Regions from separate parts of the Homo sapiens genome. Here region 2 is linked to region 1. The links come from fine-mapping of genetic effects on gene expression. A gene starts in region 1. The other region holds a variant in brackets. All regions are shown on one strand. Distances are between the middles of the regions. Region 1 holds the start of HK1 (hexokinase 1). Region 2 overlaps HK1 (hexokinase 1).

The links. PIP is the estimated chance that this variant, and not a neighbour inherited with it, causes the effect.
Region 2: its variant is fine-mapped to the expression of HK1 in neutrophils (CEDAR, PIP 0.92).

What each region holds. Positions count from the first base shown.
Region 1 is chr10:69,308,525-69,322,341 of GRCh38, reverse strand. HK1 (hexokinase 1) reads right to left here and starts at 3,495. Exons shown (of 18, transcript NM_000188.3): 1 at 3,332-3,495. The coding sequence starts at 3,394. RefSeq lists enhancers at 410-1,326, 2,912-2,961, 4,252-4,481, 9,014-9,515 and a silencer at 3,262-3,941.
Region 2 is chr10:69,349,192-69,357,423 of GRCh38, reverse strand. The region is part of intron 2 of HK1 (hexokinase 1); the gene reads right to left. Among named protein-coding and RNA genes, the nearest start is that of HK1, 34 kb to the right of the region's middle. The variant TTTG/G (reference allele first, on the strand shown) is at 3,803.

The DNA.
Region 1 (13,817 bases):
TTTATGGAGTTGAATTATTGATGTGCCTCAAGGCAATGAGGAAAGAAATGACACCCTTTTCATGATCACCTACTAGTGGAAATCACTTAGCGTTATGGGGATCTCGCCCAGAGAAAATCCACTGGCATTTGCTCACCATTCTGACAAGCCTGGAGGAAAGGAAGTCTAATCTTTCTTTAGAAGCCAAGTTCTGACCTTCCTGGACCCATCTTCCCTTTCTAAACAAACAGAGCACTATGCAATCCTTCACCCTGCTCCAAGCTCCTAATGGCTAAACCGAGTGGAAGAAGCTGGCGAGATGAGATGCGTGTTTAAAGTTACTTAGAGGTCAAAGAACCCAGCCTCTAGCTGCAGAACTGGCAGATGTCTGGGATTCTGATGAATGGAATCCTTCACAAGCACACATATGCCTCCCTTTCCTCCTACAGGCACTAGAAGAGTGAAAGGAATATATGTGTTTTGTGCTTAGCTCAGCCTAATGCCAGTACACCCTCTTCAACAGCACCCATTAACCAATTTATGCAGATGCCGTCTGGATAATGGGGTTCCAAGCTGGGAAGTCAGACACCTGAACTGTTTCAACCCAGGATATATTTTTATGGAGTTGAATTATTGATGTGCCTCATAGGCAATGAAGAAAGAAATGACACCATTTTCATGATCACGTTTGGATTCTAAGCAATCCCAAAAACTTCCCCGGCATGGTCCCCAGCTTCCCTTCTCCTACCTCTGGCTCTGAGGGCAAGAAGATAGATGAGAGTTACTGAGGGATGCCAGGTCTGTCTCCAGAGCCCCGGAGGCTGCCTACAGCTGGAGGGCTGAATCATCATGGCTGCCCACGCTGGGGGGGAACCATCCTCAGCAGGTCCCTGCTGGGAGGCAGGCAGAGTCCAGCCCCACAGGAAGAACAGGGGGTCCCGCACCTTCACCTAGCCTTTCCTATGGTGAGTGGTACGTGGAAAGAGCTGGTCTCTAAGAAATCCTGGGCCCCAGAAGAGCAGATGTGGTCCCCAGCATCTGCACACTTGGGCAAAACTGAGTAGGTCACTGGAGCAAGTACCCACTATGTCACTGTCCTTAGAAGGCCCAGGCTGGAGTGCGGTGGCGCAATCATAGCCAGGACCACACCCACAGATGGCTGTGCCACACAGTCCACTATGCAAAATGAGTGGACCCCCTGGCAGGAATCCACGTACTCCCCTATAGAAAGCAGCATAGGAAGTCCGTGGTGAAATGCAAGCAAACATCTTGTTTTTAAGAATCTCCTTGACAAATAATATCTGGTGGAAACCTTGGCCTTAAGACCTTCCTCCAGCAAGGTTCTCGGGGAAGAGAAGGGAAGAACATCAGAATCCCAAACTCGGAGTGAGGAGGGATGGAAGGGTCAACTGAATCACACACTCAGGTACCTACGGGGGCCTAGGAGATAGACTGTGCATCCATAGATGTGAATTGAGCCACCCACAGGAGTGGAGAGCTCTGGGCCCACCCTAGACACTGTATGTCTGAGAAAACATGTCCCACTGAATGGAGTCCAAACCTCAGCCCAGCTCAGCTGCTGGAGGCCACCGGCAGCCAACAGCCAGCAGTCTGTTGTGGGTGGTGGTGGGTGTGGACACTGGAGGTTTACAAGGTCACCCAGGCACCCCCCAGCCCAGCAGCCCACTGTCTTGAGCTATAAAGGACACCACGTGCAGGAGGACAGTGAACTCTTGGCTTCAGGAGGCCTGTTCTGGGCACTTCTTGCCATGCCGGGAGAACTGTCTCCCTGGTCCAATGGGAAGAACATCAGTGATGCACAACACCACTAGAGAAAACTCATGAAATGCACACACCCGCACGCACAGCTCCCAGGTCAGTGGCCAGAGGGAAGCTCCAGGGTGCTCCATAGGAGCAAGTGTTTCGAGTGCCACGGTTTGACAACCCCAGAGTGCTTAAAGCCATAAAGAGCAATGGCAGATGGCATTCCCAAGCCTATCTCCTACCTACCTCACTCCCGGTCCCCACCCACCATGGGATCCAAGATCACGGCAGGGTCCCCAGCGGCTTTGTCTCTCAGTACCCACTCCCTCCTGGAAGCTGACCTCCAGGAGGACCCTGGTGAAGTTCCTGGGTGGAGGCACTGGGAGACCTGGATCCCCCTGACTGGCTCTGCCTCTAACTCACTGGGTGACCTTGATAAGGTCGCTGCCCTCAGTAGGCCTGTTTCCTATGGTGCCAGATGAGGGAGTCATCTTAGATGCACAGGAAGAGGATGGAACACCCTATGGCTTGCCGGGCAGAAAATCAAGGCCTGTCACTCCTGCCTTTCACCTGTAGAACTCCACCTGTCTGAACGCCAAAGTCAAGATGACTTTGCCAGTCCATCCCAGCTAACCCCAGCAATAACGTCACCACGTTCAGGGTGGGTGGGCCTGGAGCCTGTACCAGACCTGGCACTGATAAAACGGGCGTCTTTCCCTACAGCTTAGGCTGTTTCTTTAAAATATGGTAGCACAGCTGGCAGAAGAGACAAATACACCTTTAAGACCTGCCAGCGGACAGTATTTTACACTAAGATGTCAAAGGCAACAACACCTCAGGACAGGAGGATGCATGCGTCCAAGTGCTAGAACAAGCATGCCACAGGCGTCCACCCAACTCAAATGACCAGTCGCTTATTTGAGCTCCTGTGCTGGCTAGAAATTACAGCTTAAGAGGAATAAAAAATTCCATTCAGACGTGCCGCTCCAGACACGAGGCCTATGAGCAAAGTTTCCGGTGGCCTCGCCGCCCCTCCCCGTTCCGGGAAGCCGGGCGGGTCACCTCGTCCTCAGATTAACGAGCAGCTCAAACAACTGGGAGAGCCCGGCGACAGCTTCTCCGGGGCACCCGACACCCTCCGCCAGGAACCCCAAATATGGGAGGCCTGGCCTCCAGCCAGCACCCCCGCCTGCTGCTCGATCACCTCCCCAGCATCTCCATGATCACACCTCCTCCCACGGCGCTCGGACCCTCCCGAACAGGCCCTGCGGAAGGGCCCACCGGCCACCTCCCCGCACAGCCCGGGGGCCTATCTGACATCCAGGGCCCGTTTCAAGGACACTGCAGCAGGCAGCCCGGTCTCGGGGGTCTTCCGCCCGATTGCCCCCCTCCCAAAAACGCACACACACAGAGACACTGACAATGCCGGTAGAATCGAAGGCGAAGGCTTTCCTTGCGCCCTGCAGTCCAACTCGATGCTGGCCCGGAGAAGGCCGGGCGCCGGAGGATGGAGGCAGCGGAGGCGGCGAGCGGATGCCGGAACGCAAGGCTGCGGCCAGGACCAGCGGCGGCGCGGGCGGGGGCTCACCTTTTTGACCTGGTCATCCTTCAGCTCCGTGAAGTAATAGGCCAGGAGCTGCGCGGCGATCATGCTGGCGGTCGGGGTCGCGGGGCGGCAGGCGTGGGGACGGTCGGTCCTCCGCAGCCCTGGCGAGCCGTGGTCCTCCGGCGGCTGCTCGGCGGCTCCTCCTCCTCCTCCTCCCCCGGCTCCTCCCCCTCGGCCCGGGGCGCGGCGACAGCTCGCGCGCTCCCGGTCTCCGCGCTCCCGTCCCCTGGAGGGTGACAGCCGCCAGCCGACCCACCTCCTCCACGCCCATTGGTTGCGGCGCGCCTCTGCAACGCCCGGCGGTGGCGTCCCGGCCGGGGAGCGGGGACGCGGCGGCCGCTCCCTCCTGCGCCGGAAAGGGGGCGGGCGACGCAGCGAAATCCCCCCCGACCCCGCATCATCCTGCACGTCCCCCACGTAGGGAGCCGATGCGGGCCTTCACGCGTGGCGGCGCCGTGCCCGGGTGGGCCGTGCCAGGCGGGGAGGTGCGAGGCGCAGGCAGGAGGCACCGCCCGGCTCCGCCGGGACGAGAAGCCCCTAGGGCTAGTCTAGGGACTGGCAGCCCCGGGGGCACGAAGGCGGTCCCATTCCTCGGAAATGAGGGCTCGCCCCTAGGAGTCCGGTGGACGCCGAGGTGCCGGAGGGGACTTGCAGAAGTGGGCGTGGAAAGCGGGCGGAAGCGGGAGCCGGGGACGCTACGCAGTCCTCGCACCCGGGTCCCGCGCCTTCCTCACCCAGGCCGAACGCACCGGCCTACCTGGGTCTTCAGCGGCAGTGCATCACCTCTCCCCGGCGTGCCCCGCCTAATCTCCAGCTGGCAGATTTGTATTGCTGAACCCAAAGCGACACCCCAGAGCACCCGCCCCCGAGTCACCAGCTCCGGTGGCTCTCCCTCAGGGCGCACTCCCTCTGGGCGGGACTTGGGCCACAGGTCGTGGCCTGTCCCCATCCTCTGGGCCTCCTCTTGCTCTTGGGCATCCAGGCCCACTGGGACTTGGGGCACGGTTCAGCGCCCCTTCCCAGGTGCCGTGTTTTCTACTTTCCCAGAGGAAGTTACGTAGGATGGGAGGACTCCCTAGAGGTGCTACCAGGACAGCCACTTTAGGATTCTTAGATTAATTATTTCTGTGTTCCGGAAGCCTCCAGGAGCTTTAGTGCCTTACAAAATGACATGTAATGAGCTCAAATATACAAACAAGTTGTTGCTATTCTGGTTAGACAGGTAAGGAAATTGAAGCTCAGTGAGGCCTCAGTCTTGCTGGACTTTATACAGCCAGGAAGTTGTAGATCTAGGATCACAGCTTGGATCTGTGAGTCTTTGAAGCAGGTGCTCACCTCTAGGGTTTGCTGTGGTCCCAGTTGTATAGAGCCCCTCTGCCTAAATAGGTCACTTTCCTGCAACCAAGTCTGCACCATATGGTGCCCTGAGATCCAACCCCCAACCTCTACCCTAGCTCTTGACTTTAGGAGTCCCTAGCCCTTGACCAGGCCTAGCAAAGGTACAGTCAAATCAGAGGGAGGGATGACGTAGGTTCAGGGGCCTGACAGCCACCATCACCCACAGAAAAGGAGGAGCTTAGATGCAGTCCTGAGGCCCCAGCTTCCTGTCCAGGTCACAGTCCCCACCCCCTGCCTTAGGGCCTATGCAGAGGGGCATCTTGAATCACCTCTGAGACTGTGTCTTCATCCATAAGATGAAGACACTAATGCCCACCTCACCTCCCCTTGATTGTTGTGTAATACTGTACGCAAAATACGTGCACATAATACACACTTAAGGAATGGCAGGTATCATAGAACTGACTGAAAAGTTAATGCGGTTAAAGCTTCAGGGACTCTCACTTTCATTCCTACCCTTCTAGGCCCTGGGAGGGCCTAGCAGTGTGATATTTGTATATTTATATTTGAATTATTTTCCATAGAGAGTGCCAATTTATTTAATTTTCAAGCCCAACAAAACCTGGATTTGCCCTGGATCATAATTATAAACCAGGAAGAGAGAGATTTTCTGGTACACATCAAACATTTGGAACTACCTACATGGCCGTTAAGCAAAATGGAGTGAATGAGAACAAGATGGTTGTTCTCAACTGCCATTTCATTTGAGTTCTGCAGATCTGCCAAGCTCACAGGGCTGGAAACTCCTTGAGGATGGAGGACTATGTTTTGCTAATTGCTCTGTCTCCTACACAAGCGCAGGGCCTGGCACTTGGCAGGCTGAATAAGCCTAATGCATAATCAAAAACATGGCCCTTAACCCAGCCACCAGCCGGTGCCATCACCCATGCCCAACCCGTTGTTACAACTCCTATCTGAGCTGGAGCCAGGGAGAAGCTGACGCTTGGAAGAGCCAGGTTACCCTGAAATGTCCTGTTTGCAGGCAGGAAAGCTGCCTCTGCTTTGTCTTCCCTGGCCTTTGAGAGGGAAACTGCTTCTCAAGGTGACTCATTCCTCCCCACTCCATGAATGCAACCAGGCCCCAAGGCCTGTCAATATTTCCTGAGAAATGTCTCTAGGCCTGACCTATTGCCACCTCCCAACTCCCAGTCCATCTCCCTGTGCCAGAAATATTACAAGAGTCTTCTAACTGTCCTCCTCGGCTCCTGGCCTCATGCCATCCAAGTCATTCTGAGCACCAGGTCACATTAATCCTGCTAAAATGCAGCATAATCATGTCATGACCCTTCCCTAAATCCCTTCATGGCCCTCTCCTTCCTGAGAGAGCCAATTTAAACATCTCTGCCTGGTTTCCGAGGCCTTCTGTAATCGACTCCACTCTTTCCCACTTATCTCTTCCTCCACTCTGGCCGCAACAAGGCCACTTCCCACCATCCTCTGCCCCCACCATGTCCACTCCATTTGTTCGCCGCTCATATTCCCTTCCTTGCCCTGCCTTCTCCACTCACCTCTGCCTGACCAAGCATCCCCTCTCATCTAAGGCCCAGCTTGCCAACCTTCCCTGGACCACAGCTACTCACCCCAATCTCCCAGGCCTCAGCACCTCGACAGGGCAAACTCAGGCTGTGCTCACAGTCCATCTGGATATACACCCAGACTCCTCTTTACAGGGCAGGAACCTGGGATGCCACAGGTGGGCCATCTTGCCCAGTGTCAGGTTGTGGTAGAGTTTTGAGCCAGGACTCCAGCCTAGTCCTGATGCCCAGCCAGTGCTCTGTCCATCCCACCCCCAACCCCTCATGCAACCTGGGCCTCAGATAAGTAACACTGAGTCATGACTGCCTAACTGATATGGGTGACTGTCTTCTAGGGGGCTGGTCCTATCTGCCCCAATCAGACAGCTTCCTGAGGCCAGGGCCCATGCTGCACTGCTGTGTCCCCTCTCTGTTGTTCCAGTGCTGACTTCACTAATTTCCTTAATAATTTGCCTCTTTTTGCTCTTGCATAGCTCTTAGATCCCTGCTAAGGCTCCTTGACAGTTACTCCCTGGATCCTCAGGAAGACCCCAACCCACAGGGAGTCCTTAGTTCCCTCCCTCTCCAGATGGCCCTCCACTTCCCTTCAAGTCCCCTGAACTCTCTCTACTCATTTACTGTGGTACCTCCTACACAAGTTGGGGTTGGAGTGACCAGTGCCAGGCTGCCACCCCAGGAAACGCACCTGCTTATAAGACAATAAAGGCTGCCTTCTAAGTTGGAATGTCTGTACCAATTCCCATCTGACCCATGGCACTAGGAATGTTACTTCAGGAGTGATCTCCAACAGATAACAGCTGTACCTCCCGCACCTGGGAGCACACTCTGAATAGCAATGTTTACATAACGTTGACAGTTTGCAGAGCAATTTCTCATTTATTGCTTCATTTCTCCTGATAACAGCCTGGTGAGGTTAGAAGGGCAAATATCATTATCTGCACTTAATCAGTCAATGAGGATGTGAAGGTTATAGAGCTTGGGTGTTTTGGTTTTTTTCTTAAATTGAAATGAGGTCTTGCCATGTTGCCCAGGCTGGTCTCGAACTCCTGGACTCAAGGGATCCTCTTGCCTTGACCTCTAAAACTGCTGGAATTGGCCAGGCGCAGTGGCTCACGCCTGTAATCCCAGCACTTTGGGAGGCTGAGGTGGGAGGATCACGTGGTCAGGAGTTCGAGACCAGCCTGGCCAACATAGTGAAACCCTGTCTCTACTAAAAATACAAAAATTAGCTGGGCATAGTGGCAAGAGCCTGTAGTCCCAGCTACTTGGGAGGCTTAGGCAAGAGAATCGCTTGAACCTGGGAGGTGGAGGTTGTGGTGAGCCAAGATTGTGCCACTGCACTCCAGCCTGGGCGACAGAGTGAGACAGTCTCAGAAAAAAAGAAAGAAAAGAAAAGAGAGAAGAGAAGAGAAAAGAAAAGGAAAGAAGAAAAAGAAAAAAAGAAAAAAATGCTGGGATTATAGACGTGAGCCATTGTGCCCAGCCCTATAGAGTTTGTTAAGGTCTCAAAGAGAGCGAAAAAACGAAAATTAAGACCAGTGCCTAAACCATTGGAGCATCTTAGAACCCTGACACTATGGGACTGTCATGCACAGCCTGTCCTAAAGAGATGCCTCGGAAGAGATCCCAACCTAGCATTTCTATTAGTTGGATCAGTGGTTTCCAACCTGGCTGCACCAAAGCCACCTAGGGAGCTTCTACAAATGCTGATGTCCAAGCCCCACCCAGAGACTGGACTAATGTGAATGCCGTCCAAGTTTCACTTTCTAACAGTTCCCCAGGTGAAACTCAGGTGCTGCCAGGAATGAGGACCACTGATTTAGACCCTAGCTTTCCATGGGAACATCTGGAAGAAATGTCTAAAATGAATTGACCCATAATCCTTTTAGCAGCTTCTGTTGGATGCTGAAGGCAGTTGCTCCAGGGTCTTAGTGGCTCTGCAGATCCTGAGCTCAGTGGGGTGAAGGTTACTGTGACTCCATCAGCGTTGCAGACAGTTCTGCTTCCTGCGGGAGAAGGCTGCTGAGGAGACACTGGCCACCCAGCCCCTGGAGAGGCTGGAGTTGTAAAATCACATTCTCAGTCTGCCTCCTTTTCTCTTTCATTTGCCCAAAGTCCTGACCTCCAATATTATAACAGGGTCAGTAAATCAGCAACCACCAAGCTAAAACTGTGGCCTGTAACATTTTATTTGGCCCACCTGATGTTTTATAAATTTGTGCCTGCCCTTAAAAAAAAATTAAGAAATTTCACTTTAAAATCTAGATTTCAGGCCGGTGCCTCACGCCTGTAATCCCAGCACTTTGGGAGGCTGAGGCAGACGGATCATCTGGTCGGGAGTTCGAGACCAGACTGACCAACATGGAGAAACCCCATCTCTACTAAAAATACAAAATTAGCCAGGCATGGTGGCACATGCCTGTAATCCCAGCTACTCAGCATGGTGGTGTACGCCTGTAATCCCAGCTACTTGGGAGGCTGAGGCAGGAGAATCGCTTGAACCCGGGAGGCAGAGGTTGTGGTGAGCCGAGATTGCGCCATTGCCCTCCAGTCTGGGCCACAAAAGCGAAATTCCGTCTCAAAAAATATGTATAGTAATAAAATAAATAAAATAAAATCTAGATTTCAGGCACCTAAAGGTGACACCACACAGGACCCACTTGATCCTGTGGCAACGTGGTCATCATGGCACTAGCTCCTTATCTTAGCCAGCGCCTTCCCCGCATATGCTGGAGCTGAGCAGCCACCGCCCCCTTTAGACAGGGTAGGGGAGCTCCAGCCAGCCCAGGCCCCACCCAGCCCACTGCTTGACACTGCTGACTGGCGCCTGTAAGGCATTGACATTTTCAGCTCCTAATAATGGGAATTTACCGGCAAAAAGCCTCCCATTATTAGGGCTGGGATGAGGATGAGGCAAGAGCCGTGCCTAGGATGCAAGACTTAAGTCTTGTACCTGAATCTTACTCCATCAGTGCCTCTCTTGCTCCATCCAAGCCCCAGTCCTCTCAGGTATCATAAAGGCCCCTGCCAGCCTCCTCCTTACTCAACCCTGACCTGTTCATCTCCACTCAGAGAGGCCCTGACCTTTCAGGACACATTTCCCACCTCCCAAGGAGGTGAAGGAAACCAACATAATTCACCCCAAAATACGGCTCCCTTGTGTAAAGAGTATTTTGAATGAAAGGCCCTTAAAGATCAACAGACACTGGAAGAGACTGCCCCACCTCCAAAGGGGAAAGACCAAAAGACCAGAAGGATGCCCCTGGGGGAACAATTTTTTCCCTTCCCCTTCCCGTTATCTGATTCTCTATTGCAGAAAAGAAGACTGAAGAATGTCACCACCCCTAGAGGGATAAAATGCCTGTCTGTCTCTCGGGCTTATTCAGTTTCCAAAGAGAGCCATTTACAAGTTAATCTCAATTCTCTGATCCCTTCTTTCTCCTGAGAAATCATGCAGAATTACAGAATTAGCATATTCCCCATCTCCTTACCAGCTTCAGAAAAAAAAAAAAGGGCTATATGGCCAGGCACGGTGGCTCACGCCTGTAATCCCAGCACTTTGGGAGGCCGAGGCGGGTGGATCACTTGAGGTCAGGAGTTCCAGACCAGGCTGGCCAACATGGTGAAACTCCATCTCTCTCCTAAAACCACGAACATTAGCTGGGCGTGGTGGTGCAAGCCTGTAATCCCAGCTACTCAGGAGGCTTAGACAGGAGAATCACTTGAACCTGGGAGGCAGAGATTTCAGTGAGCCAAGCTCATGCCACTGCCCTCCAGCCTGGGCGACAGAGTGAGCCTCTGTCTCAGAAATAAAAGGCTATATAAGCTTCTGTACTCCATTGAAGGGTTAGGGTAATCACTGTGTTTTCTTCTAGGCATATTAGAAAATGTGTATGCCTTTTCTCTTAATCGTCTTTTGTCTGTTGACTTTTCAGCAAATTCACGGAGGGGGAAGCGGAAGTTTTCCTTCCACCCTGCAGTGGCTTCTACTCCCCTTTGAAGGTAAAAGTTCCTCAGAAGAGCCAAGGAAATCCGAGTCCCACCCTGTCCCTTTCTAGACATCCCATCCTCATTAAATTGCCTCTGAGCCTGACAAAAGTCATAGGCGTAAAGAACTGTAGCTTGGGCCGAGCGCGGTGGCTCACGCCTATAATCCCAGCACTTTGGGAGGCCGAGGCAGGCGGATCACGAGGTCAGGAGTTCTAGACCAGCCTGGCCAATATGATGAAATCCCATCTCTACTAAAAACACAAAAATTAGCTGCACGTGGTGGCATGCACCTATAGTCCCAGCTACTCGGGAGGCTGAGGCAGGAGAATTGCTTGAACCCAGGAGGTGGAGGTTGCAGTGAGCCAAGACTGTGCCACTACACTCCAGCCTGGGCAACAGAGGAAGACTCCGTCTCAGAAAAAAAAAGAAAGAATTGTATCCTGGAGGAGGAAGGGTTAACCAGATTGTTGAGGCCTTCCCAGGCTTCAGACTAGCTCCTTATCTCAGCCAGCTCTCCAAAGGAAATGGTTTCCCCAAATGAAATCGTTATCTTTTGGACCAGAGCAATCTCAAATCACCTTGCCAGTTACCCTGAGTTTCCTGGGATAGTTCTCCCAGCACCCACACACAACGACCTTCACAGGGCCAGGAAAAAGTCCTCAATCCTTTCCTTCGAGTTAGCATTGTAAACCACAAATAAAATTCTAACCCACCATCCTCCTCATCATCTGATTCAACCTCTCCTCTCAGCCAGGGCATTCAAGAGTTAACCTGAAAAACTAGCTCAGGCCATGATGGAATGGGGGTGTCAGACATACTTCATCATACCTTCATCCCTTTTGGAATTCAGTCCCATCCGACCAGCATTAACATCAACAGACTGATAGAATAGAACAGACTCTCTAAGTCTAATAAGAAACATTTACAATCTTTTCTCTGAAGCCTGCTATCTGGAGGCTTCATCTGTATAAAACCTTGGTCTCCACAACCCCTTATCACTTTTTTTTTTTTTTGAGACGGAGTCTCACTCTGTTGCCCAGGCTGAAGTGCAGTGGTGCAGTCTCGGCTCACTGCAACCTCCGCCTCCCAGGTTCAAGTGATTCTCCTGCCTCAGCCCCCTGAGTAGCTGGGATTACAGGTGCCTGCCACTATGCCCAGCTAAATTTTGTATTTTTAGTAGAGACAGGGTTTCACCATTTTGGCCAGGCTGGTCTCGAACTCCTGACCTCAGGTGATCCGCCTGCCACAGCCTCCCAAAGTGCTGAGATTACAGGCATGAGCCACCAGGCCCAGCCAACCAATGTACCTCTTACATGTATTGACTGATATTTTATTGTCTTCCTGAAATGAATAAACTTGTAGTTTGACTGCTTGGGGCACATGTTCTCAGGATCTCCTGAGGGCTGTGTCATGGGCTACTGGCTGCTCATATTTGGCTCAGAATAATCTCTTCAAATATTTTACAGACTGACTCTTTATCAACAGCACCAAGATATACTGGAAAATGCTCACACAGAGTTCATGTCAACACCTAGGCAGGGTTCCTAGGCTCTAAGATGACATGGGTCAGCAAGTTAAACATATAAACAAAAATTAGATTCTGAGTTTTTATATGGCTTAGAAAGGATTTTTTTTTTTTTTTTTTTTTTGAGACAAAGTCTGGCTCTGTCACCCAGGTTGCAGTTCAGTGGCACGATCTCGGCTCACTGCAACCTCTGCCTGATGGGTTCAGGCGATTCTCATGCCTCAGCCTCCCAAGCAGCTGGGATTAGAGGCATCCACCACCACACCCGGCTAATTTTTGTGTTTTTAATAGAGAGGGAGTTTTGCCATGTTGGCCAGCCTGGTCTCGAACTCCTGACCTCAAGTGATCTGCCTGCCTTGGCCTCCCAAAGTACTGGGATTACAGGTGTGAGCCACCATGCCTGGCCAGATTTTTTTTTTTTTTTTTTTAGATGGAGTTTCACTCCGTCACCCAGGCTGGAGTTCAGTGGTACAATCTCTTTTTTTTTTTTTTATGAGATGGAGTTTCGCTCTTGTTGCCTAGGCTGGAGTGCAGTAGCGTGATCCCGGCTCACTGTGACCTCCGCCTCCCGGGTTCAAGCAATTCTCCTGCCTCAGCCTCCCAAGTAGCTGGGATTACAGGCATGCGCCACAACACCCGGCTAATTTTTTTTGTATTTTTAGTAGAGATGGGGTGTCACCATGTTGGTCAGGCTAGTCTCAAACTCCTGACCTCAGGTGATCTGCCTGCCTCGGCCTCCCAAAGTGCTAGGATTACAGGAGTGAGCCACCTCGCCTGGCCGAGTGGTGCAATCTGAACTCACTGCAACTTCCGCCTCCCGGGTTCAGGTGATTCTCCTGCCTCAGCCTCCCGAGGAGCTGGGACTACAGGTGCACACCACCACGCCCAGCTAATTTTTTGTATTTTTAGTAGAGATGGGGTTTCACCGTGTCAGCCAGGATGGTCTCAATTTCCTGACCTCATGATCCGCCCACCTCAGCCTCCCAAAGCGCTGGGATTACAGGCATGAGCCACCTCGCGGCTTTTTTTTTTTTTTTTTTTTTTTTTTTAATGAGACAAAGTCATGCCAGGCGCGGTGGCTCACACCTGTAATCCCAGCACTTTAGGAGGCCGAGGCAGGCGGATCACAAGGTCAGGAGATCGAGACCATCCTGGCTAGCACAGTGAAACCCCATCTCCACTAAAAATACAAAAAATTAGCCGGGCGTGGTGGCGGGTGCCTGTAGTTCCAGCTACTGGGGAGGCTGAGGCAGGAGAATGGCGTGAACCCAGCAGGCGGAGCTTGCAGTGAGCCGAGATCATGCCATTGCACTTCAGCCTAGGGGACAGAGCGAGACTCTGTCTCAAAAAAAAAAAAAAGAAAGAAAGAAAAGAGACAAAGTCTTGCTGTCACCTAGGCTAAAGTGCAGTGGTATGATCATAGCTCACTGCAATCTCGAACTCCTGGGCTCAAGCAATCCTCCTGACTTGGCCTTCCAAAGTGCTGGAATTAGCAGTCATGAGCCACCATGCCAGACCAGGATCTTTTTTAGGTGTATGATTTTCATATCCTATAATCATAATTTCCTAAAGTAGGGTCCCCAACTGGTCTGTGGCCTGTTAGGGACTGAGCTTCACAGCAGGAGGTGAGCAGCAGGTGAGCGAGCATTACCGCCTCAGCTCTGTCTCCTGTCAGATCAGCAGTGCAATTAGATTCTTGTAGGAGTACAAACCCTATTGTGAACTGCTCATCCAAAGGATCTGGATTGTGCACTTTTTATGAGAATCTAGTGCCTAATTGAGAGAAGAGAGACAGACCCTCTCATATTGTTTTATACTCAGAAAAAGAAAGAGAAGCAAAACTAAAGGCAGGTAGCCTGGCGCCCAGGAACCAGACCCGAAAGCAAGGAACCAGACCCGAAACCAGGCCTGGCCCTGCCTGACCTAAGCCTGGTAGTTACAGATCGACCCCTGACCTAACCGTTTATGTTATCTATAGAGTCCAGGCATTGTATGGAAAGGCATTGTAAAAATCCCTGTC
Region 2 (8,232 bases), 38 kb before region 1:
TGGCTCATTTCACTAAGCAAAATGTTTTTAAGGTTCATCATGTTATAGTGCATATGAGACTTTATCCCTTTTAATGGCTGTTACACTCTATAGATATAACACATTTTATTTATTCATTTGTTACTGACAGACATTTGGTTTGTTTCTACCTTTTGGCTATTATGAATAACACTACTATGAATATTTGTGCCCAAGTTTTTGTGTGGACACGTTTTCATTTATCTTGGGTATATATACCTAGGACAAGAATCGCTGTCAAATAGTAACCCATGTTTAACTTTTCAAGGAATTACCACCATTCTTCAAAGCAGCTGCACCATTTTACATTCCTACCAGTAATGCATGAAGTTTTCAGTTCTCCATGTCTTCATCAACACTTATTACAGTCTGACTTCTTTATCAATTTGCATTTCTCTGATGACTAATGGTGTTGAGTACATTTCTATGTGCTTATTGGCCACTTGGAGAAATGTCTATTCAGATCCTTTGCTCATTTTAAACACTTGGCTTATCTTTTCCTTTTTTTTTTTTTTTTTTTTTTGAGATGGAGTTTCGCTCTGTTGCCCAGCTTGGAGGGCAGTGGCTCAATCTCGACTCACTGCAACCTCTGCTTCCCGGGTTCAAGCAATTCTCCTGCCTCAGCCTCCTCAGTAGCTAGGATTATAGGCGTGCACCACCACGCCTGGCTAATTTTTGTATTTTTAGTAGAGACGGGGTTTCACTATGTTGGCCAGGCTGGTCTCGAACTCCTGACCTTGTGATCCGCCTGCGTCGGCCTCCCAAAGTGTTGGGATCACAGGCGTGAGCCACCGCACCCGGCCTCATTTGTCTTTTATGTGTTGAGTTGTAAAAGTTCTTTTTATGTTCTAGATACAAATCCTTTATCAGACATATGACTGGCAAATATTTTCTCCCATTCAGTGGATTGTCTTTTCTTTTTTTTATGGTATCCTTTGATGCAGTAACATTTTATGTTTGTTGTTGTTGTGTTTGAGACAGGGTCTTGCTCTGTTGCCCAGGCTGGAGTACAATGGTGCAATCATGGCTCACTGCACCCTTGACCTCCTGGACTCAAGAAATCCTCCAGCCTCAGCCTCCCAAGTAGCTGGAACTACAGGCATACGACCACACCTGGCTAATTTTTAATTTTTTTTAGAGACAAGGTCTCACTATGTTGCCCAGGCTGTCTCAAATGCCTTCGCTCAAGTGATCCTCTTGCTTGGCCTCCCAAAGTGCTGGGATTACAGGCATGAGCCACCAAGCATGGCCAAGTTTTAAATTTTGATGAAGTCCAGTTTTACGTTTTTTCTTTTATTGTTTGTGCTTTTGGAGTTGTAGCTAAGACTCTATTGCCAAATCCAAGGTCACAAAGATTCAAACCTGTATTTCGTTCTAAGAGTTTTATTAGTTTTAGCTCCCACATTTAGGTATTTGATCCATTTCAAGTTAATTTTATATATGGTATGAGGTGTAGGTCAAACTTCATTCTTTTGCATGTGGATATCCAGTGTCCCAGCACCATTTGCTGAAAAGACTATTCTTTCCCTCATTGAATAGTCCTAGCATTCTTGTCAAAAGTCAATTGACCGTAATGTATGCATTTATTTTTTTTTTCGAGACAAAGTCTCACTCTGTTACCCAGGCTGGAATGCTACCCAGGCTGGAATGCAGTGGCATGATCTCGGCTCACTGCAACCTCCACCTCCCGGGTTCAGGCAATTCTCATGCCTCAGCCTCCCAAGTAGCTAGGATTACAGGCGTGTGCCACCACAACTGGCTAATTTTTTTGTATTTTTAGTAGAGACGGGGTTTCACCATGTTGGCCACGCTGGTCTCAAACTCCTGACCTCAGGTGATCCACCAGCCTCGGCCTCCCAAAGTGCTAGGATTACAGGCATGAGCCACCACACTCAGCCTGTATGCATTTATTTCTGAACTCTCTATTCTGTTCCATTAGTCTGCATGTCTACCTTCATGCCAGTACCACATGTCTTGATTACTGTTGCTTTGCTGAAAATTTTGAAATTGGCAGTGAAATTCCTTCAGCTTTGTTCTTCTTTTTCATGATTGCTTTGGTTATTCTGGGTCCCTTGAGCTTTTGATTTTCAACACAAAATAAGGTTTGCTTTCTGTTTTTAACAATAAAGCTGACTTATCTTTGTATTTGATTCTACCAAGCTATAAGCCCTGACACACTGCTATATTTCTGGAACTTACAATGGTGTTTGGAATGTAGGTAAAAACTGAGCAAATACTTGTGGAATTAATGAAGGTATAAAGAAATAAACAACAAACCAAGGAATTCTCACATTGAATGTCACTGTTCCTATCTTTTTTTTTTTTTTTTTTTTTTTTGAGAGGGAGTCTTCCTCCATTGCCCAGGCTGGAGTGCAATGGCGTGATCTTGGCTCATTGCAACCTCTGCCTCCCAGGTTCAAGTGATTCTCCTGCCTCAGCCTCCCGAGTACCTAGGATTACAGGTGTCCACCACCATGCTTGGCTAATTTTTGTATTTTGTAGTAGAGATGGGTTTTCACCATGTTGGTCAGGCTGGTCTCAAACTCCTGACCACAGGTGATCCACCTGCCTTGGCCTCCCAAAGTGCTAGGATTACAGGCATGAGCCACTGCGCCCAGCCTGTTCCTATCTTCGTTCTCAAGTTCCTTGAGGGAAAGACCACAACTTGGGATTCTCTGTCCTTGGCACCCAGGACAGCTCAGCAAATGCTCATTAGCTGCCTGGTCACAGGGACTGGTGGTCCATTCATTCATTCAAGGCACCTGATATGGTTAGGCTTTGTGTCCCCACCCAAATCTCATCTTGAGTTGTAACCCCCACAATGCCCACATATCAAGAAAGAGACCAGGTGGAGGTAACTGAATCATGGAGGTGGTTCCCCCCATGCTGTTCTCGTGATAGTGAGTGGGTTCTCATGAGACCTTATGGTTTTATAAGGAGCTCTTCCCCCTTCGCTCAGCACTTCTCCTTCCTGCCGCTTTGTGAGGAAGATGCCTTTTCTCCTTCCACCATGATTGTAAGTTTCCTGAGGCCTCCCCAGCCATGCTGAACTGTGAGTCAACTAAACTTCTTTCCTTTATAAATTACCCAGTCTTAGGCAGTTCTTTTTAACAGTATGAAAACGGACTAATACAGCACCCCTGCTTGCTGTTTATTAAGCACAAAGCAGTTACGCCATCATGTGAGACACACACAGAGGAAAAACCAGAGTATGTTTTTCCTTTTCTCTACTCACCACAACACAGAACACACCTGTGACCCTGGATGCATGTGGGTTTTTCCCCACACACCAAGCAAGTAATTCTGCAGTGAATTCTCCAGTGAACACCAGCTCCATGCTCTCTAATTCAATTCAATTATTTCACTAGCTACCTGGAGATAGCATCATATCCCACAGGTCGAGGGCTCGTTCACACGAGGCTGCCCTCCCTCCAACTTCAGACACCAGTCACAAGCACAGGTTGTGGCCTGTGCTTCTGGCTGATCACTATAAATCGGGGTTCCTACAACCCCCTCCTTGGGTTGCATTAGTTTGCTACGGCAGCTCACAGACCCAGAAAAAACACTTCACTTACATTTACATATTTACTATAAAGGATATTACAATAAATACAGATGAAGAACTGGATGGAAGAGATACACAGGGAGGGGCATGGGAGAAAGGGCAGGAGTTTCCATGCCCCCTCCAGATGTGCCACCCAGGAACCTCCATGTGTTCAGCTAGACAGAAGCTACCAGAACTCAGTCATTCTAGGTTTTCTTCTTTTTGCTTTTTTTTTTTTTT[TTTG/G]GTTTTGTTTGTTTGTTCTTTGAGTCAGGGTCACACTCTGTCACCCAGGCTGGAGTGCAGTGCAGTTGCATGATCACAGCTTACTGCAGCCTCAACCTCCAGAGCCCAAGCGATCCTCCCACCTCAACCTCCCGAGTAGCTGGAACTACCGGCACGTGCCACCACATCTGGCTAACTTTTTTTTGTATTTTGTGTAGTGACAGGGTTTTACCATGTTGCCCAAGCTAGTCTCAAACTCTTAGGCTCAAGCGATCCACCCACCTGGGCCTCCCAAAATGCTGGGATTACAGGCGTGAGCCATCATACCTGGCCTGTTTTAGGTTTTTGTGGAAGCACCATTACACAGTTGCGATTGATTAAATCATCGACCATTGGTTTATTCGCTCTATTTTCAGGCTCTCTCCCTCCCTGGAGGCGGCATGGGGGTTGGGGCTGACAGCAACCCTCTGATCACATGGTTGGTTCCCCCTGGCAACCAGCCCCCCATCCTGAGGCTATCCAGGGTCCCACCAAGGAACAAAAGAGACTCTCCTATCACCCAAGAAATTCCAAGGGATTTAGGAGCTCTGAGTCAGGACCAGGATCAAAGATTCTCCTAGCACCTGTATTGCTCAAGAAATTACAAGGGTTTTAGAAGCTAAATGCTAGAGACTAGGGGCAGAGACCAACATGTATATTTCTTATTATTTCACATATTGGTTGGTTGTTTTTTTAATAACAGTTTTATTGAGATATAATAATATAGCATACAATTTTTACCCATTTTAAAGTGAAAAATTCAGTGGTTTTCAGCATATTTACAGAGTTGTGCAACCATCACCACTATCTAATTTTAGAAAATTTTCATCATCCCAAAAGAAATTCCATACCCATTAACAACCATTCACCATTTCCTCCCAACCTCCCTATCTCCCAGCAACCACTAATGTACTTTCTGCTCTACAGATGCCCCTATTCCAGACATTTCATATAAGTGGAATTGTATAATATTAGGTCCTTTGTGTCTGGCTTCTTTCACCCGGCATAAGGTTTTCAAGGCTCATCCATGCTGTAGCGTGGATCAGTACCTCATTCCTTTTTATGAACCGATTATATTCCATTATATGTATATATCACATGAAGCCACTGGTTTTAAATTATTTGTGGTCCAAAGGAAAGAGAGAGAACAAGGGAGAATGCTGGGAAGCAGGTGTCATAGATTTGGTGGAAATTCTGACCCCGACTTTGTGGCATTGTTCAAATCAATATAGAATTTTCTTTGGGCTCCCATTGGAGTCCTAACTCCAACAGTACTTTACACCACCACTAGGTTAAAAAATTGAATTCAGCCGGGCGCAGTGGCTCATGCTTGTAATCCCAGAACTTTGGGAGGCTGAGGCGGGTGGATCACTTGAGGTCAGGAGTTCGAGACCAGCCTGGCCAACATGGAGAAACCCTGTCTCTACTAAAAATACAAAAATTAGCTGGGTGTAGTGGTAGGTGCCTGTAATCCCAGCTACTCAGGAGGCTGAGGCAGGAGAATCGCTTGAACCCAGGAGGCGGAGGTTGTAGTGAGCCGAGATCATGCCACTGCACTCCAGCCTGGGCAACAGAGCAAGACTCTGTCTCAAAAAAAAAAAAAAATTGAAATAACTGAAAAAATTGAATTCAGTATGAAGTAGCTCCTCGCAGGTGAGTCACTAGAATATCAGAAACATTTTATTTGACCATCCATCAGCTAACATTCACTGAGTCTTTCTGTACCAATCACTAAGTGCTTATACGTATCCTTTTATTTTCAATCTTCACAACCCTATGAAGTCAGTACTGTCAGGATGCCCATTCTACAGATGAGCAAGTAAAGGTAAAGAGGGGTTAGATAACTTGCCCAAACGCACAACCAGTAAGTGGCAGAGTCAGCATTTGAATCCGAAGCCATAATGTATAACCATGAAAACTGCCTCCTGGACAGAACTCAGGGACAAGGATCCCCAAGGAAAGTGGGGGCCAGAGAGAGACTTCAGCACATCAGGAATGGCTACACTTCTTTTCTGGGGCTCTTCAACTTCCATGATTCCTTATAGCTTTGGGTTTTTTTGTTTTGTTTTTTTTGTTTTTGTTTTTGTTTTTGAGACGGAGTCTCACTCTTGTTGCCCAGGCTGGACGGCAATGGCGCGATCTCGGCTCACTGCAACCTCCGCCTCCGGGGTTCAAGCGATTCTCTTGCCTCAGCCTCCCCAGTAGCTGGGATTACAGCCACCCACCACCACGCCCAGCTCATTTTTTGTATTTTTAGTAGAGACGAGGTTTCACCACCTTGGCCAGGTTGGTCTCAAACTCCTGACCTCAGATGATCCGACTGCCCTGGCCTCCCAAAGTGCTGGGATTATAGGCGTGAGCCACCGTGCCTGGCCTAGCTTTGGTTTTATTTATTTATTTATTTATTTATTTATTTATTTAATTTTGAGACGGAGTCTCGCTCTGTCGCCCAGGCTGGAGTGCAGTGGCGTGATCTTGGCTCACTGCAAGCTCCACCTCCCAGGTTCACATCATTCTCCTGCCTCAGCCTCCCAAGTAGCTGGGACTACAGGAGCCCGCCACCACGCCCAGCTAATTTTTTTTTTTTTTTTTTTAGTAGAGACGGGGTTTCACTGTGTTAGCCAGGATGGTCTCGATCTCCTGACCTCGTGATCCGCCTGCCTTGGCCTCCCAAAGTGCTGGGATTACAGGCGTGAGCCACGGCGCCCGGCCAGCTTTGGTTTTATTTTGCTTCATTCTCTAATGAAGACAGTGAAAGCTCAGTCTGATAAACAACTATAAACCACTTGTGCATAGGGGGAAAAGGGGCACAAAAGCAAATACTACACTGAGATGAAATGATCGGTACTTTTTATTTTAATATTTTACTTAATTAATTTGCTGTTTTAATGTTCACCTAAACATTTATTTATTTCATGTTTTTGTTTGTTTGTTTTTTTGAGATGGAGTCTCACACTGTTGCCCGGGCTGGAGTGCAATGGCGCAATCTTGGTTCACTGCAACCTCCAACTCCCGGGTTCAAGCAATTCTCCTGCCTCAGCCTCCCGAGTAGCTGGGTCTACAGGCATGCACCACCACGCCCAACTAATTTTTGTATTTTTTAGTAGAGACGGAGTTTCACCATTTTGGCCAGGATGGTCTCGATCTCTTGACCTTGTGATCCGCCCACCTCGGCCTCCCAAAGTGCTGGTCCTATACGCTGCCGGGCAAAAGACACTGAGGAATGATGTCTGTTAAGGACAACAAGATAACTGATAAACTTTCCTGGATGTCCAGCATCTCTTTAGATAACTACCCTCCCATTTTTCACCTATGAGGTTGGAAGTGGGGCTGAATCCCCACTCCAGCTCCAGGGGTACCAATGCGTAATCCAGGCATGGGATCCAGGGGCATCCCAAGTCACCCATCTTGTCCATCGTGATTGGTTCAGGATGGGCACATAACCCAAGTAAGCCAATCACAGCCCTCTCCAAGACCATCACAGGTCCATGGGGAGCAAGGCCTGCTCTTTGCACAGAGATCGCTGGCTATAAGGGGAGGGGTCAGCCTAGGGCTGCAGGGGCCGTCCCTGCCACTGTAAGAGGAGAGATGGCCTATGAATGAAGCCAACACACAGGAAAGGAGCTGACTGAACTAGTAAGAGACAGATGAATCCCTAGATACAGAAGTCAACTCACAGCGAGACTTCCCAGTTATAGGAAACTAGAATTCTCTTTTTTTCTTAAACAAATTTGAGTCAGATTTCCTTCAGCTACAACCAGAAGGTTTCCAGGTTAGTTCAATATTCTTTGTCAGGAAATGAATCCCCCAAATACCCACTTGCCCTCCATAACAAAAGGGACCTATCAGTCCCTTTTACCTCGGGTTGGCTCCCTGATTCAGAGCTGTCGTGTCCAGTCACCCCCTTGCAGAGGTACTGGAGCTGTAGCCTGTGGTCTCACCCACATTTTATGTGGCTAGCTCAGGGGTTGGGGGTGAGACAGCCTGCCTTGGCTTGCCCCTTTTCTCTGCCTCCTTCCCCTGTAACATCACAGAGATGCCAGCGAATCCTGAAAAACTCTGCATCCTTCCTGCAGGGGCTCGGCTTACACATTCAGGCCTGCTGGGTGCGGTCCTTGGACTGGCTCCATTGGTTAGGAAAGACTTTCCCAAGGAATTCTTCCAAAGCCAGTTATTATATCATAAGACTGATGAGGATGACGATGACGCACCATAACTCACGGTGGTTTGCAGTTTCCAAAGACTCTCATTTGATCCTGATGATAGCCTGGTGAGGCAGGTGGGGCAGGGATTACCATGGCCATTTTACCCATGAGGAAATGGAGGCTCAGAAGTTAAGTGGCTTCTCCAAGGTCACACAGGTTGGGAGTGGCAAACCCAGAGACCGATTCAGTGTTCTAGATTTTTAT